3 separate regions of the Homo sapiens genome follow, and all the other regions are linked to region 3. The links come from fine-mapping of genetic effects on gene expression. A gene starts in region 3. Each other region holds a variant in brackets. All regions are shown on one strand. Distances are from middle to middle. Region 1 overlaps MFSD1 (major facilitator superfamily domain containing 1). Region 2 overlaps LOC100287290 (a long non-coding RNA gene). Region 3 holds the start of MFSD1 (major facilitator superfamily domain containing 1).

Region 1 (10,762 bases), 28 kb before region 3:
GTACTTAGTCATTAGACTCAAAAAGCATTTTAAAAATCTAAGTGCTGACAAATAAACTAGAACTTTCTAAGATAATTCAAATATTTCCACATGAAAAGAATACATACATTATCTTAAAAGGCAATTATAATATTTTTCCTTTGAAACATTAAGGAACTATTTGTTCTGCATCCTAATTGTGGTGTCATAGCACAAATCTCTATTAAAATTCACAGAATTCTAAAAAAAAAATAGAAGTCATGGAAAACATTTTTTTTTTTTTTTTTTTTTTTTTTTTGAGACGGAGTCTCGCTCTGTCGCCCAGGCTGGAGTGCAGTGGCGGGATCTCGGCTCACTGCAAGCTCCACCTCCCGGGTTCACGCCATTCTCCTGCCTCAGCCTCCCAAGTAGCTGGGACTACAGGCGCCCGCCACTACGCCCGGCTAATTTTTTGTATTTTTAGTAGAGACGGGGTTTCACCGTTTTAGCCGGGATGGTCTCGATCTCCTGACCTTGTGATCCGCCCGCCTCAGCCTCCCAAAGTGCTGGGATTACAGGCGTGAGCCACCGCGCCCGGCCGGAAAACATTTTAAGAGATAATATGATTGTCCTCAGGCCCATTCCCTGTACCTTCCCATCCACTAAGCCTGGCCTCTACCTCCATGGACCCTGCCAGAGCCGGAAGAGGACTCTTACCTTCCCTCTAACACTTACCTCATAGGCATGACTCTAAAATCCTGGGATGACCTGCTGCCAGGCCCACCTTCCTACTACCTCCAGCCATTTTCTCTTCCCAGTTCTTGAACCCTGTTGCTTCCAGCTCCAGCCCAGCCTCTCTCTCATCCTCCTCCCACCCACTCTATCCACTGTCCATCTCTTGTTCACTTTACCCTGTGAAATCTGAGCTCTACTGGGCTGGAGGTGGGGGTTTCCCATTTGTCGTGAAATTTTTCGTTACCTCTTCCCCAGGACAGACAGGGTTGGCTTCCAAAGGTTAAAAACTATCTGAACATGGTAAGACATAGAACCCCCACAATAATCGGATTTTCCTTGGAAAACTGAACAAGCCTCAATATTGGCGGGAGGGAGCAAGACTTGCAAGAAGTTAGCCCACACTTTCAGCTGTTTGGGATAACTCATTGACTTTTAGAAATTCCAGAGGGCATTCTGTTGCCCCTCCAGGGTGCTTCATTTACTTACCACAGTAATGTGAATGCAATCCAGGAAGGCCCAGCTTGCCCAACCCATCAACTACACAAGGTATGGAGAGATAAATTTGTAGATGTTTTAGGTCATCCACCAATACACATCTAACATATATTAGCCATATCCTTATGTCTCATAAATTAAGAATGAGAGTGCTATAGAAGGAACTCTAGTGATCTTCTATTTTGCTAATAAGAAAATGGAAACACAAAAGCTACTACGTGGTAAAACTTGGAAGACACACACCGAAGGTGATCCTCTTCAAAAAGACAAAATGACAAATGCCTACAAGTACATGATAATCTGAAATGAAATGCCCTGTAGGTCCACTGATTTGCATTACACAATAAATCTGCCAAATCTACAAGGGGAAGATCAGTTTTGGGAATACAGTGGATTACTGTAGCAGGCAGCTGCCAGAACCTGGAACTGATAAAGATCCACTGAAGAAAAGATATGTGCACAGGAATGCATGACCATATACACTAATATACTTGAGAGAAATAAATGTTAATAAGTTATACTAAGTTTGGCTGTCTGGCCTACACGATGTCAGGGCTTTTTAGTATTTCTTACAAAAACTCAAAGCTTTCTTCCATGAACTTTTTGGCAGCAAATCACTGCTGAAGGCTTACAACCAAATCCCCACTGGGGCACTCAGGAACACTCAAATGGAAGAGGGCAAAGGATATGAGGCTGCAGTTGAGGCCTTCCAGATATCATGAGCAGCATGCACACAAGTTGGAGCTGTTGTTTGCTACCAGTGAATACTAGGACTAAAAAATAAAGGCATTGTTTCGTTTATCCTTGACACCATTCTTTTCCATTTTGTCTCTGAAAATTCCCTTTACGTGCAATTTTATTCCTGGCAATGCAAATTTGATTTCTAACTCATGGCACTGTTGAACTCCCATCTTCACCCCCAGAGTTCTTTGAAAAACACTACCTGTTCCTTTCCTCCCTTCTGAACATTATCACTTTAAAACAGCAGGACTCAAACTTGCATTGAACTATATTCTTTGTGGGGTTTTTAAAACCTTCATTACACAATAAAGAGCTATTGTGAAAAAAAATCAGAAAACATAAATAAGCCAATAGAAATTCATCATTCAGAGACACTGGTGTACATATCATGCAGATATATTTGTTTTTATAAAAATGGCACCACTATGAATCTTCCGTGTGAAAATGTCATCAACATTATTCCATGTCAATATGTTCTCTAACAAAACCATTTAATGACTACTTAATATTTCACTTTAGGTATGTAATATGATGTACTTAACAAATCCCCTATTATTGTAAATTAGAGTGGCTTTCTATTATACTTTAGGCTATTATAAAATCTGGCAGTGAAGACGCTTTCTTAAAATATATTTACATGTATATTTGTCTGATGGTTTCTTTAGGACAAGTTATTAGAAATGGAATTGCTAAGCCAAAAGGCATTTAGCCCACCACCATCCCCCTTTTAGGTCTTTTTATTCATATTGCCAATTCATCCTCCAAAAGGGTTATTCTAATTTACTCTTTTTATATATCATTCAAAAAAATATTTATTTTGTGCCTACTTTTGCTAGGCACTATCAATATAATCATCGATAACAAAACGGACGCAGTCCCTGCCCTCAAGGAGCTTCCAATTTAAGGAAGAGAGAGACACCCACACCCACATTATCAGAGATTCTTCATTATTTTAAGTTGAGGTAAGCTAAAAAGGAAAACTGCAAGATCACAGCAACTTAGAAGAACCCAATACACCCTGAAGGATCTGGAAGAGCTTCCATGAGGAAGAATGGTTCTGGGCTGGGGGCTAAGGTTTTCTGGTATAAATCAGGTAAAAACAGGTTCTAGAGAGCCTTGGAGAAAACATTCTAAGCAAAGGGAACAGTGTGGACAAAGCCGCTGGGAGGGAAAGGAACACAACCCATTTGAAAACATGTAAGCAGCTCACTGTGGCTGGGGCACAGAGGCGGTGGAGAGACAAGGCAAGAGGCCAGGCCACATGGGCCTTCCAGCAGAAGTAGTGTGGACTTCCTGCACTCTCCCCCACTTGTGAGGTATTCAACACCCATGTGCTGAAACAGTCATATGGCGTCAGAGCCTAAAGAACTAACAACTCAATAATGACACATGTATTAGTCAGTTCTCACACTGCCATAAAGATACTACCTGAGACTGGGTAATTTGTAAATTACAGGGGTTTAACTGACTCACACTTCCATATGGCTGGGAGGCCTCAGGAAACTTAAAATCATGGAAGAAGGCAAAGGCGAAGCAAGGCACATCTTACATGGTGGTAGGAGAGAGAGAGAGAGTGTGAAGGGGAAGTGCCACACTTTTAAACCATGAGATCTCATGAGAATTCCCTCACTATCACAAGAACAGCATAGGAGAAACTGCCCCCATGATCCAGTCACCTCCCACCAGGTCCCTCCCTCAAACACATAGGGATTACAATTCGAGATGAGATTTGGGTAGGGACACAGAGACAAGTCATATCAACACAATAAACTGTAAGTCAGAAAAACAGATGTAAATAAAGCTGCCAAGCTACCTTGCATAAGGAACGTACTTTCAATCTGTTCCCAAACATTTACACTTACAATATCATGCCATGTGCTTTAAACAATATAATCAGCTAAATACATTGGTTTAATATCTTGTCTAAAATATCTGCATTCTTTGACTTTAACAAATAATATGTTAAGGCTGAAAAATATTAAAAAGTATTTAAAGTTTGTCAGAGAAGCTTCATACTCATATTTTACTTAATATAAAAAAAACCACATATGTTACTTAAAGTTCTACTCTGGAGAAAAAGCTACCCCCATAATCTTTCAGTGACTGTAATTGGGCAAGTTCTCTTTATTCTGACTTGGGTTTTCTTCTAGATAATCTTCTGCATGAATAAAAGTTAAAATCAGTGTTTTTGTATTTTTTAAAATCAAAAGAAGACATCAAGTACTCCGTGTGCAGTGTTTTAATTTATCCATGTACATAGGCAATTATCATAATTTGAAGGACACTTTTTACTTATTAGACTATAAGAAAAACTGTACAGAAAGTTTATACTATAAAATTACATCCCTAAGTGATTAGGGTCCTCAGTAACACAGAAATAAGAAATTGAAAAGGGTCATTGCTCGGCAATCCACATAACTACAGAGTAGAGCGCAAGCTATTGTTCGTGATCAGAAAGAGACTTCATAAAAACATCTTCACATATTCCCTAGCATTATGCCCTACTAGTAAAAGGAAGGCCTATGACAATGCCATTGTTTATTTTGTGTAACGCAGCCCTTCTATTTCCCTCAAAAGTTTTTTTTTCCTGCTATAAGATAAAGAAAAGGCTGTATCCCTAAGATATATACCTAATGAAGATTATCTCAACAGAAGCTCCAACGTTTTCCATTTTTCACTGTCTTTCCTGAAGTTCACCTGGATGTTCCACAGCAATTTTCTAACCCTTTCATTGTTGATTAGCCTACTAAAAGTAGAATTCTTTAGCAACACACAATACAAAAGACACAGGC[TAAAACAGGCC/C]TCACAAATACACTTTGAAATAGGTATATTTGGATATAAATATAACTTTCCAGTCCATTATTTTTTCTAATGACTAAACTCTAAATTTTTAAAAATGGAAGTTTTCAAACCAACGATGTGTTAAGCCCATTCTCATGACACATTCATTTTAACTTCTCATCTGCAAAACATAACGCAATAAATTACCAAAGAGGAAGAAAAAAACATGAAGCTCACCTGCCTTATAAAATGAAAACCAAGCATTACAAGACATGTAATAGCAAATACTAAGCTACACATTTTTTTTCTGAGCAATTTTTTAACTCTTCTTGATCCTAAAAGTCACAAAAGATCAATGTAGAAAATTTGAAAAATATTCTGAGTTTTTAATTAATATTCTGAGGTTTCAATTAATATGAGGTTATTTCTAGTAGTATATTTTCTATTATACATAAGTAATTGGGTTTAAAACAAGCATGTGACAGCATACTTTTTCTTGAATAAAATTAGGATATTATATTTGCATTTTTATCTTTTGTTTACTTAGCATACGGCATGTTAAGCATCTATGACATTAAAAATCCTTCTAAAACATGGTTTTAACAACATATCACATGGATGTGTCATGATATATTTAACCATTTTCCCTACTCTAAGACATTTATGTTGTTTCCAAACTTTTAACATAATATGACTATCATAAAGATATTCAAAACTCATACTTCTGATTATTTTAAGATGTATTTGTTAAAAGTGAATTTAATATGACCAAAACCACCCCCATCTCAAAAAAACAGACTGTTCTACCAGATTTTAACCTAGTCAAAAGTCACAACAATTACAATCACATGGTATATATATTTACAAATAAATGTTTAAAATCATAAAAACTTCAATGTCTAAAAATATTAGAAATAACAGGAAACAGAATCACTATTATGTTTCAGTACATACTTTTAGAAAAAGAAATGTTAACTTAATCACCATGCTATATACTTAAATCTCTTCCAAATGAATCAGAGAACACAGAACCACATATTGGTACCAGAAGAAGATGAAAAATTATCAACTACTTAAGAAAAAGAAAATATCTGAGAGAATGGAAGGGTAAGCCCAGTCCAGGACCTCAGGACGAAGGCCTTTCCTCCAATAAATTACAAGTAATATAGATCGATCTCTGTCTCTCTCTCTCTCTCTCTCTCTCTCTCTCTCTCCCCCTCTCTCTCTCTCTCTCTCTCTCTCTCCCCCTCTCTCTCTCTCTGTGTCTCTCTCTGTCTCACAGAGAACAACTTAAATTGAATTATTTTTTTTCTTCGTTTCAAGCCTTAATATCCATTTTTAAATTTTCTGAAGCAAACAAGAATGTTGTTATAATAGTTCCACACACATAATAGCTAGCTCTCAAAACTCAAGGAAAACTAATCTCTTAGAAGTTCAAAGCCCAGGCCAGGCGCAGTGGCTCACATCTGTAATCCCAGCACTTTGGGAGGCCGATGCAGGCAGATCACTTGAGCCCAGGAGTTCTAGACCAGCCTGGGCAACATGGCAAAACCCCATCTCTACTAAAAATACAAAAAATTAGCCAGACATGTTGACACACAACTGTAGTCCCAGCTACTTGGGAGGCTGAGATGGGAGGATTGCCTGAGCTGAGGAAGTTGAGGCTTCAGTGAGCTGTGACCATGCCACTACACTCCAGCCTGGACGACAAGCATGGGAATCAAAAAAAAAAAAAAAAACTTCAAAGCCCAAACCTTGAAACGAAATGCTCATATTTAAGATTTCAAAAATAAAGACAACTTTTTACCCTTTTAATACTTACTCAGTATGGGAAAATTTTATTTCTTCCCTTTGTCTTGCAGAATAATTTAGGTTCCCACCTAAAACACAAATAAACATAGATCTTTTCCATATAAGTATTATCAGTAAGTAAATTTCAACCATACATACATACATGCAACCATTTGCATAGATACACTGTATTTTAAGTAATAGAAAAAGCTATCGACGATGAAAAAGTAATGGTTTATCTACTGGAACCTTCCCAAAGGGAAAAAATGAAATTCTTGTGTGATATAAATAATCACCCCTTAATTTAAGCATTTTTTTAAGTTTGGACTTATGTATTGCTTCAAGTGTTGTTACTTAGGACACTGTATTAATATTCAATAATAGTGAAAATTAAGAGAAATTAAAGGAAATGAACAGGTGTGGTAGCTCACGCCTGTAAATCCCAGGCTAAGGCGGGAGGATTGCTTGAGCTCAGGAGTTTGAAACCAGCCTGGGCAACATAGGGGGACCCCATATCTAGAAAAAATTTTAAAATTAGCTGGCTGTGGTGGCATACACCTATAGTCCCAGCTGTTTGGGAGGCTAAAGTGGGAGGATCACTTGATCCTGGGAGGTTGAGGCTGCAGTGAGCTGGGATCGCACCACTGCACTCCAGCCTGGGTGACAGAGTGAGACTCTGTCAAAGAAAAAAAGAAAAGAAAAAAAAAACTATTAAAATAAAAAAAAAAGGAAATGACCTGAAATTATTTACACAGCATATATATTATATTCTACTAAATATATAAAACTCTTTAGGAGCAAGCAGTTAGAAAAATTACTAATGACAACATCAAAATCTTATCAAGAACAACAACAAAAATCCACTAATGCATACAGTACGAATTAGCAAAAGAAAAAAAATCTGTAATTTCTAATTCTAAACCAAACATCTTGAACCTTAAAATGTAAATTATAGCTATAAATTTGCTTAGTTCTGATTTCTTTTAACGTAGGACAATAACACAGAGGGGCTTTAGGTTACTTTTTAAATGCTATATTTCTTTATGTTAATATAAAAATAACATCTAAGATTTTATATTATTAAGAAACTCATCTGGCTAGATTTTAAAAAATGACAGCAATCTTAATAAATATGAAGGCCCAGAAAACATAATTATATATTACATAATCAAATGTGTTTCCATCATTATGAACAGAAAGTCATTACTGCATGGAATAAAGCACTGGCCCCCAAAGAGGCAGACCCAGAGACCCCACAAGATGATCCACTGCGGTTTAAGAAGCAAATATCAGATCTTCTACTTACCCTGGGCACGATTCACCAAATAGAGTAAGACCACAGATAAAAGTGACACTAGGAGTGAAAAAACATAGGGCCCTTAAAATATGTATTTCTTCTCAATGATTCCTATGTAATCATAATCACAAAGCAAAGCTTAGACACAATCAAACCTTTATTAATTGCTATTTTAAATAAAAATATTATTCCCATTATTTTATTTTCCAAAAGCACTAAAAATAAGTTACACACTATTTTCTCCAAGGGCTACTCAGCCCAGGGGTGGCAGGCCAGAAACAAAGAAGTTGAGGCCCCTAGAAAAAAGGGAGCCGACCCAGCCACAGCCCAGCCCTGCCCCTCTTTCCTCTCCCTTTCTCAGTGCTGGTCCTTTGCAGGACTTACCAAAAACTCCTGCCAGCCCCCGATTGTTTATCATTTCAGAGGAAGCCAAATAGTAGTCTTTTGGGGGCTTTAAGTCTGAAAATGCCATGTCCATTTTACAAATTTCAAGTAACCAAACATTAAAATGTGATCATTAGACTCAAATCAATCAAGACCTCAAAATTCAAGTTTTCCCTTGGCTTTTTCCTTTAATAAGTGAAGAACACTGTTTAATTTACTTTAAAATAATAGGGCAGGCCTATTATCTTATTATTTTGATTCATGCCTGTAATCCCAAAGGCAGGAGGAGCGCTTGAGGCCAGGAGTTCAAGTCCAGCCTGGGCAACACAGTGAGACAGCATCTTCACAAAAAAATTTAAAAACCAGCCAAGCATGGTGGTGCACACCTGTAGTCTTAGCTATCACGGAGGCTGAGGTGGGAGGATCACCTGAACTCCGCAGTTCAAAGTTACATTGAGCTGTGACTGCTCCACTGCATTCCAGTCTGGGTGACAGAGACAAATCCTGTCTCTAAAAAAGTAATAATAATAAAATAAAATAACAGAAAAACATATTCAAACGGCACACTGTTTGCTTTGAGACCCAAATACATGTTGAACTGTGGACTGACATTTAACCACATGCTGCAACAACAAAAATAGACAAAAAACATTTTATGATTTAATGTCTGAAATTCTTATATGACCCACTTTTTTAAACATTTATTTTTAAAACTTGACGTCCTTGTTTCTAAAACAAGCACGTTTATTTATGAGATAATAAAATGCACTCAAGGCAACTCATAAGCAATTATCTGCAAATACCACACTTCAGGTATGGATGGTCTTTATTCCCTATAAATGAAAACAAAGTTTGATAAAATCATCACTGTGGTTTGTCATTTTAAGCACAATATTGAACTATAAAAGACATCTTGATGTGTTAAGGAGAATTTTCTTTTCAGATAAACACAATTTATATGTAGGGTAAAGATTACCTATGGACAAATGCTATTATTTTTATATATTTTTCAAGTTTCCTAATGCTTCCAATTTCAAACCAATGAAATTACAGGTAAAAACTAAATTACGGACTAAAAATAAAAATCAGTTAAAACTGCCTAATGAATAACCATGAGTACTCACACCTAAATCACACCAACGTTTCCACATAGTCACATTAAGGATATACTCAGGACTCTTCAAATTGTTCCACTTTAAGTGGGAAAATGCTTTTTTTTTTTAAACTGTAAATAGTTAAAACAGAATATGAAACCAACTCAATCACTGCCTTTAAGGATAGGAATCTCCTAAAAAATGCCTGTGAATCTTCAGAGGGCTAGAAAGTCACCAGCTATGAAATTCTAATTCACAGGTGAGAATTAGGCAAATCTGGGAGCTATGCCTAAGTAAAAATAAGAACATTCTGTTATGTAGTAAAAGAAACAAAATGTTGTCATACGGAATACTCACAAGAAACACAGGCAATGAAGAACACTTCCAAAAACAAATACCCCCGAGAATCCAGTATCATACCAGCAATGATGGAAATGATGGCCAACCCAAGATTCTGAATGGACTGCATGCTACAATGGAAGAAATATAAAGACACATTTCATTTTCAAAAGTCTTCACACATAGGCTAACACTTCACTATAAATATTAGTATCTGTGAACCATATACTATTTGTGTTCAGAGATGTTTTCCACCAGGGATGACTTGATTAGATTTTGGATTGGTTTTTATCCCATAACTATTTCCACTACTAGACTGCTCAAAGGTAAGGGAGCTTGTCTCATTAAGTGCAATGTGGATTCAATACCTTTGTGCTGAATGAAAGAAGGGCCATGTGAATATCAACCACAGGTGCGGTTTCCCCCCTCTGCCTTTCTGTGCCAGGAACTGGACTCAGCTTCTCACTAAGAAGCCTCACATAAACAGGCAGGGAGATTATAATGTCAGCAAGGACCTCTTCTGGGTTAGCTTACTCCAGCCCTCTTGCTGGAGGCTCTTTTGTGGCCACAACAGTATCTTAAATAGATTTACTGACTTTTCCAGTTATCTCCAGGTTCAGCGCTACCCCAGAGGCTGGATGACGACTAGATTCAGATCTGGAGTTTTATATGATAATTAAATTGACATAGCAGAGACAGACATATACGATCCACAGCGTAAATACTTACAAGCCATATGCAGTTCCCAGCTGATGTTCAGGAACTACAAATGCCACCATTGGCCACAATGCACAGGCAAGCAATGAGTAGGAGAGTCCCAGAAGACACTACAGAAAGCAACGCAGAAAAGGTCACAGTCTTACATTAACCAAAAGGTGATTTTCCTTTAATGCAGATTAGCAAAAGTGACAGAGTAGTTAATATATATATATTCAAGCAAATTTTGTTGTTATTAGGCTAAAATTCGTATTCAAAATATACAAAACAAGTCTCTGCCCTAAGAGTATCCTTTTAGCGACAAGATACATGCTGTCTTAACCATTTTCATTTGTCATCATATTATATGCATATGTAACTGGCTGGGGCCCAAGATGCAGTCAAGGACCAAGTAAGAAAATAAAGGTAATTTTTAAAAAGTTCTTACCAA
Region 2 (11,140 bases), 42 kb after region 3:
TAAGAGTTGGTCCTTGCTTCTTGCTGAGGTACACAACAGATGCCCACTGCAGCCTATATTCCTTAGTAAGGACTAAGATCCCTTAGTCCAGTCCTATTGTCCAGCCCTCTCTCCAACAGTTCATCCCATGCTAACTCTGATGGTGCCGCTGCACTCCAACCTGGGCTACAGAGTGAGACCTTGTCTGAAAAATAAATAAAAAATAAGACACCTATCAATGACCCCCTGCGACAGTGCAGCAGTGGGGGAAGGACCTCGTAGGCAGGTTGTCTATGTGCTGCCAAGGGCAGGTCAGAAGGAGGGACCCTAACAAGCTGCCTTCGCCTTGAAGCTCCGTGTTTCACTGTTTGGCCCTGCCAACACATAGAAATTAGATACCCACATGTTTTTTCAAATTAACAAACCTAAAATTGTATTTATTTACTTTTCAATGAATTTGAATCCTCCAGTGGTACAGCATCACATGGATTCTGTGCCCAATGGCCTTAGCAGGAGGGTGGCTTTGGAACTTGGCACAAACCACGCTGTTCTTTCCTTGGGCACAAGTTACCTTTCCCCAGATGACTCTGGTTTTGTTTGATTTGCTGCCAGGGCCACTGTGTTGTTCTTTGCACACATAAGTACATCTGTTTCCCAAATAAAATTCAGTTTCATCTCGGGCATAAACACCTTCAATTTCAAGAACAGTTGTGTGCTCCCTCTGGTTCCAGAAATGTCACTTCTAGCAAAAGTGGCCTCAGGGCACAGCCCTGCAGACATGTTTGCTGTTTCAGAAGCCCTGTTCCCATGGGCCTCTCCAGGCTCCAAGAGGGCAAAAAGAATGAATTTGATATCTTTTGATAGAATAAGAATCTCTGTTTCATTAGAGAAGAACAAAGTACTATCTTATACAATGTATCCCAAAATAAACTGTTTTAATTGCTGAATCTAAGACGTAGTGATACATGTAGTCCTAAATCTTACTCCAATTCCTTAAAACTAGCTTGAATTTCCAGAAGGTTGGTGTCCTACTATTTGTGATGAAAAATTAACACTACAAAAAAAATAGCTCCACTAATAATTCCACCAGCGAAAAATTACTTCACTTCTCACTATTGAGATTTTGAAAGACTGCGTATCTGTTTACCTGGACATCTTCCTAAATTTCATAATTAATCCTCAAATGATGTAAGTAAAAGTTCTGCAGGTCAGTAGGAGGAAACAGAATTGAATTTTATAAAGTATTAAGATTTCTCAAGATACGGCCAAAGGCCATACTCCCTTGGGCTCTGGAGGATCATGTTCTCAGGAAAAGTAGAGTTAGGGTTGGAGAGAACTCAAAAAGGATATGAGGGGTGTAGCAGGATGTGGTCATTGCGATTTAGGAGGCCTCACCCCCCTTGAGTCAGTAATAATTATAATACTGAACACTCCTGGGGTACTTTTGAAACCTTAGAAGCCCCTCAAGGCCCCACCATGGGTCCAGTGCACTGCGTTGCTGAGAAAGGTCATTTTTACAAATATCACGTAACCTGATGTGCTCTGAGGTGGTGGACAGCATGGGGGAGGAGGAGCTCCATCCTGACTGAGTGCTAAGTGTTGCAGTCATACCCTCCTCACTGAGGGTACTGTGCGTCCACTCTGCCTGTCCACAATTGACAGCAGGGCAGTCAGTGAGCCTCTGAAGACACAGTCTGAACACACACACCTCTACCTGAACATTTGAATGGCCCCACATCACTCTTAGAACAAAGGCCGAATACCTAATATGGTCTTTGTAACTTGGTATCTGTCTTAGTCCATTTGAGCTGCAGTAACAAAGTATCTTAGACTGCGTAACTACCAAAAAAAAAAAAAAAAATTATTGGTCACAGTTCTGGAAGCTGAGAAGTCCAAGATCAAGGCACTGGCAGATTTGGTGTCTGGTGAGGGCCATTTCCTCATATACAGGAGTCTTTTTACTGTAAGCTCACATGGCAGAAGAGAAAAATGAGTTCCCTGGGTGCCTTTTATAGGCACTAATTCCATTCATGTGAGCTTCTCTTAATACTCGTTTGGATTAGGTTTCAACATATGACTGGAGGCAAGGGAACATTCCCATCAGAGGGGTATCTGACTTCTGCCCACTTTCCCACTTCACCTTCCCCATCCTGCTCCTGCCACTCTGTCCTTTTATGAGCTCCTCAAGCATTCCAGATGGGCATCGTCCCACGGCAGAGTTCTGCACATGCTGCCCCCAACCCAGGGCGCTCTCCCTTCCCCACCTCCTTGCCTTGCCGAAACTTTAGGAAGCTCATTTATCTTGACTGGATTGCTTAATATTAGTCTAATGTTTAAATTGTCCAGTTGAGATAACAGGGTCCCCTTTAGTGCCATGAGTCTATGATTATTCTCTTTTTCTGGAGGACAGAGATGCAAAAGTTAAAGTAATCAAACTACTGTTAAGTTATAGAGAATAAAATTCAAGAGTAAACCTTTACTGTGTTAGGGGTAGAAATTTGCATGTTAATTATATGCTGTACTGGTGGGGAATGAAGCCAAATGTTACATTTATAAAGGATGGTACAGCACTATGCCATTGATTCATGTTTCAAGCGTTTATTGAGAGCCTGTGATGTACCTGTGCCAGGTATTAGGAAATAACACAGTGAGCAAAACAGACATGGGCCTTGCCCATATGGAGATCACAGCTCAGTGGGAGAGGAAGACGTTAATCAAATAATCATACACATAACTGCACAACTGCCTATTGTGATAAATTCTCAAGGGAAAGGTTCTGAGAGAGGTAAACTAGTCTGGGTGGCAAGCTTACTGAGAAACAGACCGTTAAGCTGAGACCTAAAGCAGGAGTGTGAAACAAGGCAAAGGGACCAGCCAGTGCCACCACTGCCTTGCAGGAAGCCCACAGCCTACCTTCCTACCAACACACAGAGCCCACCCGACGCGGCCAGAGCCAAACACAGCCATGCTCTCCTTCTCTCCACATCGACAGAAACACGTGCACATCCACACCCAAAGTGGGCAAGTAGACGTAGCCCAACAGAAGGAGAAACCCCACATGGATTACTCATCTCATCTTACCACAATCAACACAAAATTAAACACAGCAGTGCATCCACACTCTTATTATGACTTCCTTTTTTATTGAACTTTTAGTTTTTCTGTTATAAATATTATGAACTTTTTACAAATTCAACTCTTTCAATGAACTATAATTATCATTTTCAGGGCCACGTTCACATTTCCAAAGGCAGGCAGGAGCTCTCTAGGTCAATGCCTATGTCCTTTCATCACGGTTCCTAAACCACTTGAAATCATTATTTTGCTCCAGATCAATCCTGAGGTTTTCTCTGATTAAGACAGGAAATCAGCTTCCCTGTAAGGGGCCCTGGCTCCTTATAGAGACCAAATTCTGAGCAAAGGGGGACACACAAGAGAGTGAGCAACGGCCAAGCACCCCCACTACTCTCCTGTATCGTTAGCAGTGCTAGAGTGAAGGTACATCTTTGAGGACTTGCATTCTCAATAATGCTCTGATTTAACAGACCATGTTGTTGTAACCTACTTTTCTGATAGGATGAGATTTCACTGACCATAAGATTTTTTCTTTTCTGCTCTTTCTTTCCTCAGGGAAACTGAGGCTGAGAGAGCCTGTATGACATGTCCAGGATGCCATCAGCAAGCAGTGGGATGCTATTTCAAACCTGGTCTAATCACAAAGCTTGTGTCCTCTCTATTACAAACCATTTTGTGGAACAGAAGCTACAGTTCTGGTCATTCATTTATTTATCCCATAAATCAATCTTTCTTTATAGCTTACGACTCACCTTCTTCCCTTCTCCATCCTGTCTCATGGTCGTAAGATGATCGAAGTAGGTCCTGTCCTTCCTGAACACGCTGCCAAACTTCTTTTAATTTTTAAATATGTGAATAGAGACAGGGTCTCACTATGTTGGCCAGGCTGGTCTCGAACTTCTGGACTCAAGCAATCCTCCTGTCTCTGCCTCCCAAATTGTTGGGATTATAGGCATGAGCCACCGTGCCCAGCCCACACTGCCAATGATGAGAAGAAAATGTTCCTAGAATGGCATTCAAGGAATCTTTTCAAGAAAAAGCACTTTTATAAATTATTTTTATGCATTAATGAATTATTCTCTCAGGTAATCACATTGGCTCACATTTCAAGGTCAAGATCAGGATGAGGAGTAGAGGATAATAACAATGGATATCATCTGGGCAGTGTATACCAGTAGAGCAACAGTAAATGAGGATCCAAACCCTGACAAGCTCTGATTATCAGAATAAATGACCTGCTCCTTCCTTGCAGAATTGGCCTGTGGATCAAATAAGAGCCCAATAGCTCTTAGCCCAGCATCTGGCACAGATCAAACACTTGGAAAATGCCCACCATCATTGGAAGCATTACTTCTTTCTGAACCACCCAGCTTCTTGAGCACCATGTGTACAGTATTATGATTGGAG[T/C]TGGAGTTAGTATAAACAAACAATCCTGCCTGTCAAATAGCAAAAATAATGGTTTCAAAAATCACTTTTCTTGAGAGAAACAATGTGTTGTTTTGAGTTAGAAGAAGATGAGCTGACCTAGTGAGGAGAGTGCCAGCGTGGAGGAACGGACCACTTTGGGCCTCCTTCGTGGAGAGCTCCTACCCATCCTCTCTCAGGGCCTAAGAAAAATAAATGAGGCAAAAAGCAATTGAGCTCAGAACTATAGTGGATGAAATCAAATTTAATGGGCATCCTTACCAAGAATTAAGTCAAATGGTTTAAGCATTTAGGATAACTTGCCTTTATCAAAAGTCAAGGGAGATCTTGTTTTTAGTACATTTAAAAAAAAGACTTTACCTCACCCCAATCCCAATTTCCCCCAATACCACACAGTTTACTTACTTTGGTTTCTTCATTCAGAGTGATTATATTCCCAAATTGGGGCCTACTAAAGCCTTTGGAGGCCTTCCATCTGTAAAGATGGAAGATTAAATAAAATTGCAATCAGCTCAGTAGAATGTAATGTTGTAGTAGAGAAAATTAACAGTCCCTGTCCCACATATTATAAAAATCTTCTTTGAAAAAAAGCAGAAGGAAAAAGCTAGTCAAAGCTGATCTAAGTTTCTGTAGACAATGGCACAAATTGATGATAAAGAAGTCCATTCAGTTCCCATTTTCTCAACTGCAGAATAAGTTTGCTGAGGCAGCTCTGAATAACCTAATTAATGACTGCAGACAATTTGATAGAATTTTTAAAATATAATTTAAAAATATATATAACCAATGTCTTTCTATCAAGTTCAAAAGCAGTGTTTGAAATAGGTGCTAGTTCATACATTACAGTGAAAATCTAAGTTATAGTGTTGCATATGTATCTGTTTGCATATATAATATATACATATAGCTGTATGTATATGTAATTATAATTGGTACATCTCTATCATCCATCCACTTGTTCATGTAGGGATTAGCCTCTGAAATTTCTAATAAATGCAATACAAGTTTTGAAACTCCCTGTGAAGCCCCTCTATGAAAAGGAGGCTAGAAAAATTATACACATAAACATACATTTTCCCTCAACACCGTGGGTGTCAAGGGAGTTTGTAATCTGCCTGCTTCTACGGATAAAAAAGAGTAAGTTTTTCACATAAAATCAAACCCCCAAACCTATTCCACTTAAGGGAATGGTATTCATATTTACATTTTCCCCAGATTATAGGAATCCTTACTCAGAAAATTAAACTGAGAGCTAGGCAGGGAATCAGAAAGCCCTGTGATCTAATGAAAGACAACCAACCTTGTAAGAGCGCCATAAAGAGAGACCTCAAAAATGTGAGATAATGGAATCATGCACCTGACATTACAGACATATTTTTGTCACATTTGAAGTATTTTTGAAAAAACTGAACATTCATAAAACTTGACCACTGAATGAACATCAAAAGGAATCTCAGTAAATAAAAACTCAGTATCATTCAGATCAAGTTCCCAAACCATAATAAAATACAATTAAAAATCCAAAACAAATAAAAAATGAACCAACATATTTGGAAAATAAGAAATACATGTCTAAATATTTCATGAGTTAAAGAATAAATCATTTAAAAAATAACAAAATACTGTATTTAGAAATGGATACCAAAGAAAATGCTACATATCATATGGAATGCAGGTAATGCAGAACCTAGAGGGAAAAATTCAGATATATTCAAAAACGAAGAAAAATTTAAAAACTAATGATTTCACAGTCAGTTCAAGAGAAAGCCACAATTGACAAATGGGATCTAATTAAACTAAAGAGCTTCTGCACAGCAAAAGAAACTACCATCAGAGTGAACAGGCAACCTACAAAATGGGAGAAAATTTTTGCAACCTACTCATCTGACAAAGGGCTAATATCCAGAATCTACAATGAACTCAAACAAATTTACAAGAAAAAAACAAACGACCCCATCAAAAAGTGGGCGAAGAATATGAACAGACACTTCTCAAAAGAAGACATTTATGCAGCCAAAAAACACATGAAAAAATGCTCATCATCACTGGCCATCAGAGAAATGCAAATCAAAACCACAATGAGATACCATCTCACACCAGTTAGAATGGCGATCTTTAAAAAGTCAGGAAACAACGGGTGTTGGAGAGGATGTGAGGAAATAGGAACACTTTTACACTGTTGGTGGGACTGTAAACTAGTTCAACCATTGTGGAAGTCAGTGTGGCGATTCCTCAGGGATCTAGAACTAGAAATACCATTTGACCCAGCCATCCCATTACTGGGTATATACCCAAAGGATTATAAATCATGCTGCTATAAAGACACATGCACACGTATGTTTATTGCGGCACTATTCACAATAGCAAAGACTTGGAACCAACCCAAATGTCCAACAACAATAGACTGGATTAAGAAAATGTGGCACATATACACCATGGAATACTATGCAGCCATAAAAAATGAAGAGTTCATGTCCTTTGTAGGGACATGGATGAAACTGGAAACCATCATTCTCAGCAAACTATCGCCAAGGACAAAAAACCAAACACCGCATGTTCTCACTCATAGGTGGGAATTGAACAATGAGAACACATGGACACAGGAAGAGGAACATCACACTCCGGGGACTGTTGTGGGGTGGGGGGAGGGGGGAGGGATAGCATTAGGAGATATACCTAATGCTAAATGACGAGTTAATGGGTGCAGCACACCAACATGGCACAGGTATACATATGTAACTAACCTGCACATTGTGCACATGTACCCTAAAACTTAAAGTATAATAATAATAAAAATAAAATTAAAAAAAGTCATATAACTAATAAATAAAATGGAAAGAATAAATGTAAGAACTGAAATGAATGAAATAAAAAACAAAGATAACTAAATAGATTTAATAGACAGACACAGTAGTTCATGCCTGTAATCCCAGCACTTTGAGAGGCAAAGGCAGGAGGATCATTTGAGACCTGCTTGGGCAACATGGCAAAACCCCATCTTTACCAAAAATATAAAAGTTAGCTGGGCATGGTGGCAATGTGCCTGTGGCCCCAGCTAGTCAGGAGGCTGAGAGGTTGGAGGATTGCTTGAGCCTGGGAGGTCAAAGGCTGCAGTGAGCCATGATCACGCCACTGTACTCCAGCCTGAGCGACAGAGTGAGACACAGTCTCCAAAAACAAAAAAAAAAAAAAAAAAAAGGAAGCTATATAACTAATAAACAAAACAAAGTAGAAGAAAAGAGCTAATAAATGCAGGAACAGAAATGAATGAAATAAGAAAACAAAGATAACTAAATAGAGTTAATAAAACCAAATGCTGGCTCTTGACAAAGACTTATAAAACAAAAACTTCACAAACCTGGCAAATAATAAATAAGAAAAGGCACATATCAACAATAATAAAAAATAAAAATTCAATATAAATACTGGTATAGGAAATTTTAGAACCTCATGAAAGAATACTATGAACAACAATATTATAATAAAAATGTAGATGAAGTACACAATTTTCTAGAGAAATATTTTAAAAACTCAAGAAGAATAAAAAACCTGAAAAGATCTGTTAAGCATTTAGAGACAAACAATAATTTAAAAATTTAATCAATTTTTAAAAAATCAACAACTAGGGGGCAAAGGGGTGAGAGGGGTTTATAGAATAATACTTCAGCATCACAAATTTTGAAGAAGAAAATAATGCATACATTGGGATGAGTGATGGGTTTGCACTGCCAAATGTTAACCCACATTATAAGTATATTAAATCCACACAATAATTATTATAAATGACTAAAATGCATGGTTCCATAACGAAAATAGACTATTCAGCTAAATAAAAGTTACAAAAAAAAATCAACAACAAAAACAATCTTTCAAAATGATATACCCACTTTAGAAGACAGTTTGGCAGCTTCTTACAAAACTAAAAATATTCTTACCATATGATTCAGCAATTGTGCTTCTTGGTATTCACCCATAGGAGCTGAAAACTTATGGCCACACAAAAACCCATAGATGAATGTTCATAGCAGCTTTATTTATCATAATTGCCAAAACTTGGAAGCAACCAAGATGACCTTCAGTAGGTCAATGAATAAAGAAATTGTGGCACATCCAGACGATGAAATGTTCTTCAGTGCTAAAAAGAAATGAGCTACCAAGCCATGAAAAGACATGGAGAAAACAAATTCATATTACTCAGTGAAAGAAGCCAGTCTTAAAAGTCTACATACGACATCATTCCAACTATGCAACATTCTGGAAAAGGCATAATTATGGAGGCAGTAAAAGGATCAGTGGCTGCCAGGGATTGGTAGGAAGAGATGAAAGATGTTAAAGAAGAAATCATTTTCAACAGCACAAAGACTTTTTGGGACAGGGTAACTATTATGTGTGATACTACAATGGTGAATATATGAATATATGTCATTACACATTTGTCCAAACCCATAGTATATACAACACCAAGGGTGAACTCTAATGTAAACTATATACTTTGATTGATAATGATGTGCCAATGTGGGCTCATCAGTTGTAATAAGTGTTCCACTCTGATGCAGGATGTTGATAGTGGGAGAGGCTGAGGAAATATGAGAATTTCTGTACCTTCAGCTCAGTTTTGCTATGAACCTAAAACTGATTTAAAAAATAAAGTCTATTTAAGAGGGAAAGAAAAGATCAACAATCTTTGAAGGCTTTACAATTGTTTTACTAATCCTTTGAAGAAAGATAACAAAGATCTTAAATAAAACATTAACAATCTAAAACTGGCAATGTACTACATTTTTAAATTTAGGTTTTATTCCAAGAATGAAATAATGGCTTAACTTCAGAAAATCTATCAACGTAGAAACTAGCTTAACAGTTAAAAAAGAAAAAACATATAATTATTTCAATAGCTGTAGAAAACACACATAACAACTTTAAAGCCCATTCGTAATTGGAAAATAAACTCTTAGCAAAGTAGGAAGAGAAGTTAAAGCTCATGATTTCATCAAAGATGTTCTCTAAAAGATTACAAAAACATTTAATGATGACATATTAGAAGAATTACCTTACAATCGGCCGGGTAGACACCTGTAGTGGTCTCACACCTGTAATCCTAGCACTTAGGGAGGCCGAGGCGGGCGGATCACCTGAGGTCAGGAGTTCGAGACCAGCCTGACCAACATGGAGAAACCCTGTCTCTACTAAAAATACAAAATTAGCCAGGCATGGTGGCTCATGCCTGTAATCCCAGCTATTCAGGAGGCTGAGGCAGGAAAATCGCTTGAACCCAGGAGGCAGAGGTTGCCGTGAGCCGAGATCGAGCCATTGCACTCCAGCCTGGGCAACAAGAGTGAAACTCTGTCTCAAAAAAAATAAAAATAAAAAATAATTACCTTACAATCAAGAAAAATTTAAGGATTTTCAATATCGTCCCTTCTATTTAACTCAAGGTTTTAGCCAGGAAAATAAGGCCAGGAATAAATATAAAATGTATAAGGTTTGGAAAGGAAGAAACAATCTTGCCATTAATTGCAAACAGCAAGAATGTTTACAATGCTTTCTGTTGTTGGGTAACAAATAACCGCAAATTTAGCAGTTTAAAAAACCCACATTTATTATGTCACAGTTTTGTAGGTCAGAAGTCAGTATCTCTATACAGGGTGTCAGTAGGCTGAAATCAAGGTGGGGCTGAAATCAAGGCGGAGGCCCTACTTCTGCTCTCAGCTGGAGCTCATGATCCTCTTCCAAACTCATGTGGTGGCAGAATTCAGTTCCCTGGGATGATAGGAGTGAGGCTTCCGTTTTCTGATGGTTGTTGCCTGGGGCCTGCTCTTGGCCCCCGGAAGCCGCCTGCAGTCCCTTGCCACTTGGCCTACACTGTCACAGCTTACTTGTTCAAAGCCACCAGGAGAATCTCTCCCTTCGGTCACCTAGAACTGTCTTAAATGGTACAGCATAATAATGGGAGTGACTATCCCATCATATTAACAGGTTCTACTGACACTCAAGGGAAGGGAATTATATGGGGTATGTACATCAAGAGGTGAAAATCTTGGAGGCCTTCTTAAAATTTTGACTACCTTAGTATAGAAAATCCAAGAGAGTTTTATAATCTATTATAAGTAAGATGATAGTTTGACCAGGTGCGGTGGCTCATGCCTGTAACCCCAACACTTTGGAAAGCCGAGGTGGGAGGACTGCCTTATCCCAGGAGTTTGAGATCAGCCTGAGCAATATAGTGAGACCCCCATCTCTACAAAAAATAAAAAATTAACCGGGTGTGGTGGCTCGTGCCCATAGTCCCAGCTACTTGGGAGGCTGAGGTGGGAGGATTGCTTGAGCCTGGGAGGTCAAGGCTACAGTGAGCTGTGATCATGTCACTGCACTCCAGCCTGTGTGACAGAGTGAAGCCTTGTAGACCCTGAAGCTGGTGTGCAGTGGTGCAATCACAGCTCACTGCAGACTCAACCCCCCGGGTTTAAGTGATCCTCCCACCTCAGCCTCCCGAGTAGCTGGGACTACAGGCACAAGTCACCATGCCCAGCTAATTTTCTTTTTCTTTTTTGTAGAGATAGGATGGCACTTATGGTGCCTAAGCTGTTCTCAAAGTCCTGGCCTCAAGTGCTCTGACAGCCTCAGCCTCCCAAAGTGCTGGGATTACAGGTGTGAGCCAATG
Region 3 (10,565 bases):
AGAACCTGGTTTACCTGATCCCAAGGGTGAGTATAATTTTCCTATGGATAACTGAGTTACCTTATACCATCAGCATTTACTAGTCCTGACCTTAACTGAAATACCACGTTTCAAAAACCAACTCCAGAGATATAAAAATCATTTTTTTAAAAAACTCAAGCAAATTATTAGTTAATACAGAAGTTTATTCAGCTCTTTCTAGAAATACCTTAATCTAGCTCTGTATTTTTCTAACAATCAGGTAAGATTTACCCATAGTTTCTTTTCAAGCTTACCGTATTCCAAATACTCGGTCTATCAAAAAGCCACCAAAGAAACACAAAACTACATTGGGCCAAGAATACCAGGCATACAGCAGCATGAATTTCGTGGTATTCACTTGCATATCCTATATGAAAAGAAAATAAAACTATTTTTTTCCAAACAGTTAAGTTTAGCAACTAACAAATCAAAATATGACAATCTAAAGTGGAAAGTAGTTACATTCTTCTTTCTGTAAAGGGCAAGTTTTTTTTAACCATTTATAAGTCTCACTAACTTCCTTGAGAATCTCATGAAAGCTATGGCCCCTGGCCCAGGAAAATGGTCACACCTGGGAACCCTGGGAACTTCTTGAGTTCACATGCCATTTCAGGGGCTTCCTGGATTCCAGGATCAGACACCCTGCTACAGGGACCACTTCTGTCTGACTATAACTTCTATATACTACCTGCACTGGGGACTCTGCCCACATATACAAGGATAATCTTAGCCTATCCCTACCTACCCTACCCTCTCCATCCCCTCAAGCATGCTCCTCCTACTTCCTTTCTCTTTCATTCTAGAATGAAAAGGGTCAACCTATGCATTTTCCCTGTCCAAAGGTTAAAAAGAACCTACAAAGAAAAGAGACTAAATACCCAAAAAACTGTAAATATCAAGTATGTTCTTACAATACAAAACCAGACTAAAAATCCTGACATGGACAATCCTCTGCAATCAGTATCCACATTTAAAAAACAAAATAACAACTAAAACCTATTTAAGAAGGCAAAAAGCTATCTTAACAAATCATTTGTCATTCGGGTGACTAAGCACTGGGAGAGTGAAATGCAAACAAAAACCTGCTCATATTTTTGACAATACTGTGGAAATACCACATAATTATTTATCTAAGGTCTGAAACAATTTCAAGTCACATATGTGCTATAAATGAATTATTTGTGGTAACTCATTTCAACTTAAGAACACCCCTTGCAACTTGTGGATTTGGTGACTACAGATGTCAAAATAGATTCAGCGGACACGTGAGACTAGGGCACCTGAGGGTTGATAATGCCTCCACCGCTACACTTGCTCTAAAGAAAACAAAAGAAACAAGAGTGAAAAATCAACTTACTCGTTTAACTTGAGTCTGAAGGGCAGCAGGATTATCATAGCAAAAATAGCTGCCTAGAAAAGAGCAAATACTTTATAAGTAATAATACTTCCCATATAAAAGTTTCAAGTTGCAGTTGCTACTGAAATTACAATTTTAAATGCTGATACTACGGGTTGACACTACAGAAATATTTCTGAACCACTTCCTTATCCACCAGTATTTTCTAAGTTATATCAAATAACTTCCATAAATTGGTAGTGTTCATACACAGCAAATACTGGGAACCTGAATTAAAAAGTCAACAACCAACAATTAAATATTTTTCTATTTTACTTTCATCATGCTTCACACATATACTATTTTATTAATATCTTCATGAAGCATCTATATTTTATTTATTTCCTTATTTACAAACACACATACACTAAAAACTTTACAACCTCATCAGTTTCCTAATAATGTTAGCTTAAGGACAAAGGAATGGAGTGTAACCATTCTGACAAAACCAATATTTGAAACAAGTTCTCTAATTCTACAAACTACCCAAAATCAAATAATTTAGTGAATACAGGGCCAGGAGTGAAAAAAAAATGAAACTGAGAATTCTAAAGGATTAAATTAAAACATGTCTTTGGGGGAACTGGAAAGAGAGAAGTAGGGAGAGATCTGACCATGCACTCGGATTTATTTTAAAGATAAAATAATTGAGATTCCTTCGTAGGCTACAAGAAAATATTGCCTCCATAGCTCTACTAACTCTACAAGTGCACGAGGCTATTGGTTCTAATGACAATAAAAACTGTCATTAGAAAGGAATGAATCTGGCTTCTGAATTCTAGGCAGATAACCAGAATTTACCAAAAACTGTCTGTCTGCTTGAGTGGGGACCATTTTTTTTAATGTTTTATTGTTGTTCTTTCTTTGTTGTGGTGGTGGTTGTTTCTAAACCCTGCTTTAATCTCTTTTAAGGATTCAACGTCCTGCTTTAAAGCTAATGGATGGGCATCATCTTTTAAAAAACAGGGGAGGGGGGAAAAAGGAGTTGCAAGGAAACCAAAGCCCAAAGCATCCTTCATGTCTACTTATATGTTCAGCGCTAGAATAGTTATCCACCATAATGTTCTTAAACCTGCTGATTACACGGGCTCCAGCTAGCCTCCTGAAAAACACATTCATACCAAATTAATATTAGAATTTTGCTTAATAAATTAAAAACTGTAACATAGGAAGGAAAATTTTTTTCTAATTATCAAGAAACTGTTTTCGGAGACATCAGATTTCATAAGAGAAACCAACCACTGTCAAGACTACCACAAGTCCCGTCCAATATGATTGCTTCACAGTGGCAGAGTGGAAGATTAAGAGAACAATATCTATTCACTGAAGCTATCAGCAAGACACACTCATACATTTTCTCAAAGAGGGTGAAAAATATATAGAAGACTGCCGACGAAATCATTCACGTTTTTTAAAAGCTGGACAACATTGTAAGACCCTGTGTCTAAAAATAATAATAATAATAAAGCCGGGTGTGGTGGCGCCCCATCTGTGGTCCCAGCTACTCGGGAGGCTGAGGCGGGAGGATTGCTTGAACCCAGGAGGTGGAGGCTGCAGTAAGCCACTTTCACAACACTGCACTCCGGGCTGGGTGACAGAGCAAGCCCCTGTCTCACCTAAAACCAAACAAACAAAAGTTGTTTAGGAACAGTTAAAGCTTTCTGAATTTCCTCCGACCACGTGTGCCAAAAGAGGAACCTTGAAAATCTGGAGTTACCTTCATATCTATCGCCTCTAGGGCGAGTCGCTAGCCCCTGGGACTTACTGAAGAGCAAAGGAGTGCCACAAAACTCGCCCAGCTCAGTCCCTCGACCTCCACGTTCCGGACGCGGAGTAACTAGCAACATCCACAGGTGTGGCTGGAATCGATCGCAAAGGGGAAAATAAGGAGGCCCAGGAGCTTAAGACAGAAGCTGCGCTGAGGCCCCGTGGCACCAGTGACCACGATGACGATCTACCTCGAAGAGAAAGTCGGGAATTCCTTAAAGATCAGCCCCAACCCACCCGGCCGGCTCACCAAAGCCAAGGAAGCACATCAGTAACAGCACCAAAAGCCGGTGCGCCAGGCGACTGGGGTCGCAGAGGGCCGGCAGGGCTCCAGGGGCGGCCGGGGCACCTCTGTCGGCCTCGTCAGGGCCGCCTGCCAGGAGCGCCCGCGCTTCCTCATCCTCCTCCTCCATTGCGCCCGCAGGAGACGGAGAGGGGAAAGTGGTGACAACTCCAAACCCAGGCAGGAAGCAGCGCCCGTGGAACACTGTCAAGACGGCGGTCACATGACTCCGGGAGCTCACGTGACGCCCCGGCAGGTCACGCAGGGCCACGCCCATGTGAGCGGCCGCGAGCGCTGGGAGGACGGACCCAGCGGTCGATGACAGGGCCTGGCGCGGTTCGCTTTTCCTGGGTGACTGTGTTCGTGGGGCTGAGGCCCTCGAGGTGCCCACTTCCAGCTTTCCACCAATTACTGCACTGTCTTTCCGTTTCCTGCCCCGCTGACGCGTACACCTATTTCAGACTCAGCGCAGCTCCGCGGGGAGAAAAGTGCGGGGCTCCCTCTCGGCTCCACACCAGACTCCGGAGTAGTTCGAACTGCGCTGGGGTCGCCAAGACGCGCGCTGCCCTTCTCCCAGCACTGCCCTCCCCAGCGTCTTTGACCACTCTTAATACCCACAAACTTGATCGGACAATTTCTGGTGTGTCCAGCCATGTGTCACGTACTGGGAATACAAAATAGAATGAGGCAAGCTCCCTGACCTCAAAGATTTCAGAGTTCAGTTGGAGAAATCGACAGAATCTGGTACTTTTAAAACTAAACATGATGAATGAATGTGGTGAGAACAGCGGCAGAAAATGGCACTGAATTCCATAGAAATATCTGGAAAGGTCATTTCAAAAGGGGAGAAAAGGTGCGTAGTTTAGCCAGCTTTCAGGGCAAGGGAGTGAGGGGCGCTGAAGCTCCTTGAAGTTGAAACCCAGGCTAGAATGAGTAAGAATGCGCCAGTCAGGGTGCTTGTTTGAGCGGGTTGGTTGCAGGGCGGGCAGTTACGAGGGATAATAAAGACAAAAGCGTGAAACAGAACTGGGTGTGTATGTGTTTGTGTTGAACGACAGAGAAGGAACTCGAGTAGAAACACTAAACCTGTTTCAAGAAGAGCCATGCAAGGATTTTGAGCACAGCAGCAGGACTGCAAGCTTTGTGTTTTAAAAAACATTCGGTCTGCCAGCACAGCACCATCGTCGCTTTCTGGGAGCCCTCAGGCTTTACTAACAGAATTTTGAGGGCGTCAAAGCTAGAGGCTGAAAACTGTGAGGATTATTAGGAAGATGCTGCAGTCGTAACGATTAGAGATGACGAGGGCCTGTTAGCAATAAAAAGCAGGAATGGCACAGAAGAAAATCAGTAATTATTTAGGAGGTAAAATGGGAATAACTGTAAATAATAGCCTATGCGATCTGAAAGAGAGGAAAGACTTGAGAGTGTCTCCCAGATTTCTAGCTTGGGCCGCCAATAGAGATCAAAATTTAGAGAGAGAAGGAGGTAGGAGAGAGTGTCAAGGATCAGGTGCTGCCTTTGAGATGTCTATACATATCTCCACTTTCACAGTCCATTCTCTCTTCAGCTCCAGTGGAGGAGCTCCCGATCTAATAAAACTGTCTTGCCGAGAGGAGTAATAACTCCATCTTTCCAAATACATTAGTCACTTCTCTGTCATCTTACTCAACTTCTATCAATTGATGGAATTGACAGCCACTCCTTTTTAGCCTCCTTGGCACCATACTTGCCTTGTGTTCCTCCCACTTTGCTGGCCTATCTCATTTGCTGTCTCATTTGTCAGCTCCTCCTCTTCTATTCAAAATCTAGATGTTCAATGATGCAAGACCCATTCCTGAGCTCTCTTCCACTCATCCATTCCCATAACTTTAAATACCCTCCCTCTGCTGTCCAGTAGGTAGCCATGTGTGGCTGTTGATCATTTGTAATGTGGATAGTTGGAAAGGAGATGTGCAATACGTATAAAATACACACCAGATTTCAAAGACTTGTATGAAAAATAGAATAACCTCCTAATTTGAATACTGATTACATGTTGAAATAATATTTTGCAGATATTAGGTTAAATGTATATATATTAAAACTGGCCGGGCACAGTGACTCACGCCTGTAATCCCAGCACTTTGGGAGGCCGAGGTGGGTGGATCACCTGAGGTCAAGAGATCGAGACCATCCTGGCCAACATGGTGAAACCCCATCTCTACTAAAAATACAAAATTTAGCTGGGCGTAGTGGCACCCGCCTGTAGTCCCAGCTACTCAGGAGGCTGAGACAGGAGAATCACTTGAACCCGGGAGGCAGAGGTTGCAGTGAGCCGAGATCGCGCCACTGCACTCCAGCCTGGTGACAGAGGGAGACTCCATCTCAAAAAAAAAATTATATATATATAATTTTATTTTAGTTTATATATATATATGTGTGTGTGTAAACTAATTCCACCCATTTTTACTTTTTATGTGGCTGCTAGAAAATGTAAAATTACCTATGTGGCTTACATTGTATTTCTGTTTATCAGTGTGGATTTATATGCTGTTGCCTCTAAAATACCTTCATTCCAGACTCCTTTCTTCAGCCTAAGACTACCATTCCAACTGTTTATTTGATATCACGTGGATGATGTGGATGACTAATAGGCATCTCAAACTTATCACATTTAAAACAGAATCCTTGAGTTCTCTCACCCATGCTATACCTATTCCTCCCTAAGTGTTCCTTAGCAAAGTAAATGGGACATCTCTCTACCACTTGCTATCCGCAAGTCTAGCAGTCATCCTTGATGGCTTACTTCATCTCCTACATCTACTCCCTCAGCATGTCTTGTCAACTCTCTTCCAAAATATACCCTCATTGTGCATGTTCTCCATCACTACTCCTCTTACCAGAATGATCTCTCCCAGACAATCACAACAGACTCTTTAAATTGTTTTATTTTGCTTAATTTTGATGAGAGATACATCTGGTGTATATCATTCAAACAGTACCAAAGAGAATAAAGTTCAAAGCGAGTCTTTCCTGCCTCCCTATACCCAGTACTCTTGGGAAGTAATCATCATTATCAGATTATTTTGCATCCTTCCAGAGTTACTACACACAGTTGTTTTTCTTCCTTTCAGCCCAGCAGTGTGGCCTAGAAATTGTTCTTATTCTTGAGGACGATCTTGGAAACAGTCTGTTTGCCACACCATCCTAATCAAGCTTGTTACCAGATTTTTGGTCTTTGCAAATATGATCAGTGAAAATTTGCTATCATAGTGCAGTCTCAATTTATATTTCTATTATATTGAGGAATATTGAACCTCTTTTATGTGATTAACAGCCACTTATATTTGTTCTAGGAATAATCTTCATATCCTTTGCTTATTTTTCCAGATGAATTATTGAGGCTTTTTCTTATTGATTAAATAGGCTCTTTGTTGCTGATAGGAGCTGCATATATTTATTTTGACTCTGTTTACGGTAATATTTCCATATAGTTTCTAATGCCAAACTCTCTTTTTATTTTATAACTCCAGGGGTTTGCTTCTCACGCAAGATTTTCAACAGCCTCAATTGGTCTCTCTACTTCCGTTGTTGCATTTCTATGATATGTTGCCCGCACAACAATCAAAATGATCTTTTTAGTTAGTTTGGAGCTTTGGTTTGTCAAGGAATTATGAGTCAACCATCAATATTTGAACTAAAAGAAACAAAACTGGGCCAGGCACCGTGGTTCACACCTGGAAACCCAACACTCTGGGAGGCTGAGGTGGGGATATTGCTTATACTCAGGAATTGGAGACCAGCCTGGGCAACATGGCGAAACCTCATCTCTCCAAAAATACAAAACTTAGCCAGGTGTGGTGACATGCGCCTGTAGCCCCAGCTGAGGTGGGAGAATCACTTGAGCCCAGGAAATAGAAGCTGCAGTCAGCCGTGATTGCACCACTGCACTCCAGCCTGTGTGACATAGCAAGACCCTGCCTCAAAAAAAATAAAAATAAAAAAAAGCAACGAAACTGGATTTACTGTGTACTCTAATAAGGAAAAGCTATGCTGGGTCGGCACAGTCTCCCCAAGCAGAGCTGGCTGCTGATGCTCTATGGAGCTTTGGGGAATACAGAGTTCAGGAATAGGTGCATTTCAGAGGCAAAAGGGTTTGCCATCACCTGTAGAAGAGTAGATATTCTGGTAAGACTGTTATTAATTCTCCACTGAATTTATTGGAGTGAACCTGTCATTGGCTGACTTTGAGAAAGGAGGGGTTTTTCAAAACAAGTTTTACTGAGGCAGTTGATTAATTGAATGGGTTTAAAACTGGTTCTAGGAGTGTGGAAACTTGCTTTAATTCTCAGGGCTTCAAAAAATTATTATAGAAATGTGAAACCTACAGAAAAAAAAAAGGTAAAAAGGTAATGTACCCACCAAACTGAGCATCCAGAGAAGGACACAGGAAAGAGCTTTTTAGTCAGTGCCAACTCCCCTGTGCATGCCTGAGAACTTCTCCTTGGGGGCTTGCCCTTCCCAGGAGTTCAGGCTACCTGGTTACCTTGCAACCCAGCTGTGTCTGATGGTTTCAGTTAAGGTTGTGACTTTGTAGTTCATCTGAGTTTTTCTCATTATTGAGAAAGGAAAGATGTTCATTGCAGCTTTTCATATCCTAAGCACAAAAGAAGTCTTTCGTCTCAATTTTAACAGTACATTAATGGGGTATTACCCTTTTTCTCCCAGTTTCACAGTTGTCTTTTGTCTTTATGAAGTTTTTGGCTTATTTGTTTTGTCATGAAAAGGGTTTTTTTTAGAATATAGTCAAATTTATCAATTTTTTCTTTTATTGCATCTGGATTTTGAAACATAATTAGAAATCCTTTCCTTGTACCCAGGTTAAAGAAGAATTCACCCATTTTTTTTTCTAGTACTTGTATGGTTTCATTATTTAGATTTAGATTCCTGACCCATTTGGAGTTTATTCTTTTGCCTAGTATGAGGTATGGATCAAACTTTTTATCTTTTTCTAAATGGCTAACCAATTGTTAAGTCCATCTTTGTCCAAGTGATTTGAGATGCCACCTTTATTGCATACTAAATTCCCATATGTATTTGGGTTTACTTCTGGACTTTCTTTTCGGTTGTACTGCTCTTTCTTGTCATGCACAAGGACCACTGTTTTTATTTTAGAGGCCTTAGAATATGTTTTAGTGACTGGTAGATGTAGTCCCCTTTCATAGCTTTTATTTTTGTTTTCCTGGATATTCTTCCATATTTTTCCACCTGAAATTAGTATCAGCTTGCCTAGCTCCATAAGAAAACTGGTATTTTTTTAATGAACTTTGAAAATTAACTTAAGGAGACTTTAGTTTTTAATGTTAAGTCATCACATACAAAAAAAAAAAGTGGTGTTCCAGTTTTTCAAACTATTTCATGTCTTTTGAGAGTGTTTTAAAGTTTTCTTCATATATATTTTACAAATTTCTTGTTAAATTTATTATTCTTTGTTGCTTTTGTAAATGTAGTTTTCTCTACCTTTATGTCATGTTACTGATTATGTATGTGAAGGCTGTTGATTTATGTATGTTAAGTTTATGTCCTGCCAACTTATTGAATTCTTCTCTAGTTTGACTTAGTTTTGCTGTTAATTTTCTGTGATATTCCAGGTGTACTGTCATACCATCTGCAAAGACAAAGAGTTTTACTCACTCTTTTCTAGTTCTCCTGCCTTCAATTGATTTCTCTTTACTAACTGCAGTAGTGAGTATCTCCAGTTCAATGTTAAATGGCAGTGAAGATAGTGTACATTCTTCCCTTAGACCTGGGATAAATATTAAACAAACAGAAGAGAAAGGAATGCTCTTCCTTGTAATAGAAAGCCAATCAATACATGTAGAAGGAATGATGGAAATATAAAACCACTGTTTGCTAGGCATCATCATAATATCTGATCCAGGCAAGAATCAGTAGTTACTAAAATTAGTGGATAAAAGTTTGAAGTGTAAAGGATATATGCATAATCTCAAAGTAGCTCCTCACCAGAGATTTATTAATGACAAAGGAAAAAATAGTGCAGAAGCCTGGCCCACATACGTGAACCAAGTGATCATAGTTAATACTACCAGTATTGGAACAAAGTGACATTATGTGCCCCCAGATATGCACTGAAACTGAAAACACAAAACTCTGTGATTTACCTAACAAAAGCTCATCATACCTAAATCTCAGCATAAGGAAACATCAAACAAACCCAAATTGAAGGATATTATACAAAATAACTGGCCTGATTTCTCAGTGTCATAAAAGACTAAGGAACTGCCCTGATTAAAGAAGACTCCAGAGACATAACAGCTGAATGCAACACATGATCCAGGATTTCTTTGGCTATAGGGAACATTATTGGGACAGTTGACAAAATCTAAGTTCTGTAAGTAATTTGTATTCTGTCAGCATTTATTTTCTGATTTTGACTACTGGACTGTGGTTATAAAAGAAGGTACCTGTGGCCGGGCGTGGTGGCTCACTCCTGTAATCCCAGCACTTTGGGAGGCCAAGGAGGGCGGATGGATCACCTGAGGTCAGTTCAAGACCAGCCTGACCAACATGGAGAAACCCCATCTCTACCAAAAATACAAAATTAGCCGGGTGTGGAGGCGCATAGCTGTAATCCCAGCTACTCGGGAGGCTGAGGCAGGAGAATCGCTTCAAACCAGGAGGCGGAGGTTGCCGTGAGCTGAGATCAAGCCATTGCACCCCAGCCTGGGCAACAAGAGCAAAATTCAGAAAAGACGAAGACGAAGACGACGAAGACGAAGACGAAGAAGAAGAAGAGGAGGAGGAGGAGGAGGAACTTGTTTTTAGAAAACACATACTGAGATATTTAGAAGTCAAAGGACATGTACATATATTAGATATATATGTATATGGAGAGAGAATAAAACAAACATGGTAAAATGTTGCCATTTCAGGTGTCTGGGTAGAGGTATGTGGGAACTCTTTTTACTAGCCTTACAACTTTTCTGTAAATCTGAAACTATATACACCACACTTTGACCTCCTAAGAGTCTTGTGCATCTTTGTATCTCAAACATCTAGAACAGGGCCAGCTTGAAAACTGCTTAATAAGTGAATCCC

What was found. PIP is the estimated chance that this variant, and not a neighbour inherited with it, causes the effect.
Region 1: its variant is fine-mapped to the expression of MFSD1 in whole blood (INTERVAL, PIP above 0.99).
Region 2: its variant is fine-mapped to the expression of MFSD1 in whole blood (TOPMed, PIP above 0.99).

What each region holds. Positions count from the first base shown.
Region 1 is chr3:158,823,108-158,833,869 of GRCh38, reverse strand. MFSD1 (major facilitator superfamily domain containing 1) reads right to left here. Exons shown (of 16, transcript NM_022736.4): 12 at 10,345-10,442; 13 at 9,634-9,746; 14 at 7,808-7,855; 15 at 6,533-6,590; 16 at 4,154-4,891. The coding sequence ends at 4,888. Among named protein-coding and RNA genes, the nearest start is that of MFSD1, 26 kb to the right of the region's middle. The variant TAAAACAGGCC/C (reference allele first, on the strand shown) is at 4,722.
Region 2 is chr3:158,753,050-158,764,189 of GRCh38, reverse strand. The region is part of intron 4 of LOC100287290 (a long non-coding RNA gene); the gene reads right to left. It also overlaps the pseudogene RPL35AP9. Among named protein-coding and RNA genes, the nearest start is that of RARRES1, 26 kb to the right of the region's middle. RefSeq lists a silencer at 3,362-3,557. The variant T/C (reference allele first, on the strand shown) is at 4,462.
Region 3 is chr3:158,795,185-158,805,749 of GRCh38, reverse strand. It overlaps MFSD1 (major facilitator superfamily domain containing 1), which reads right to left and starts at 3,696. Exons shown (of 16, transcript NM_022736.4): 1 at 3,435-3,696; 2 at 1,379-1,431; 3 at 276-388. The coding sequence starts at 3,597.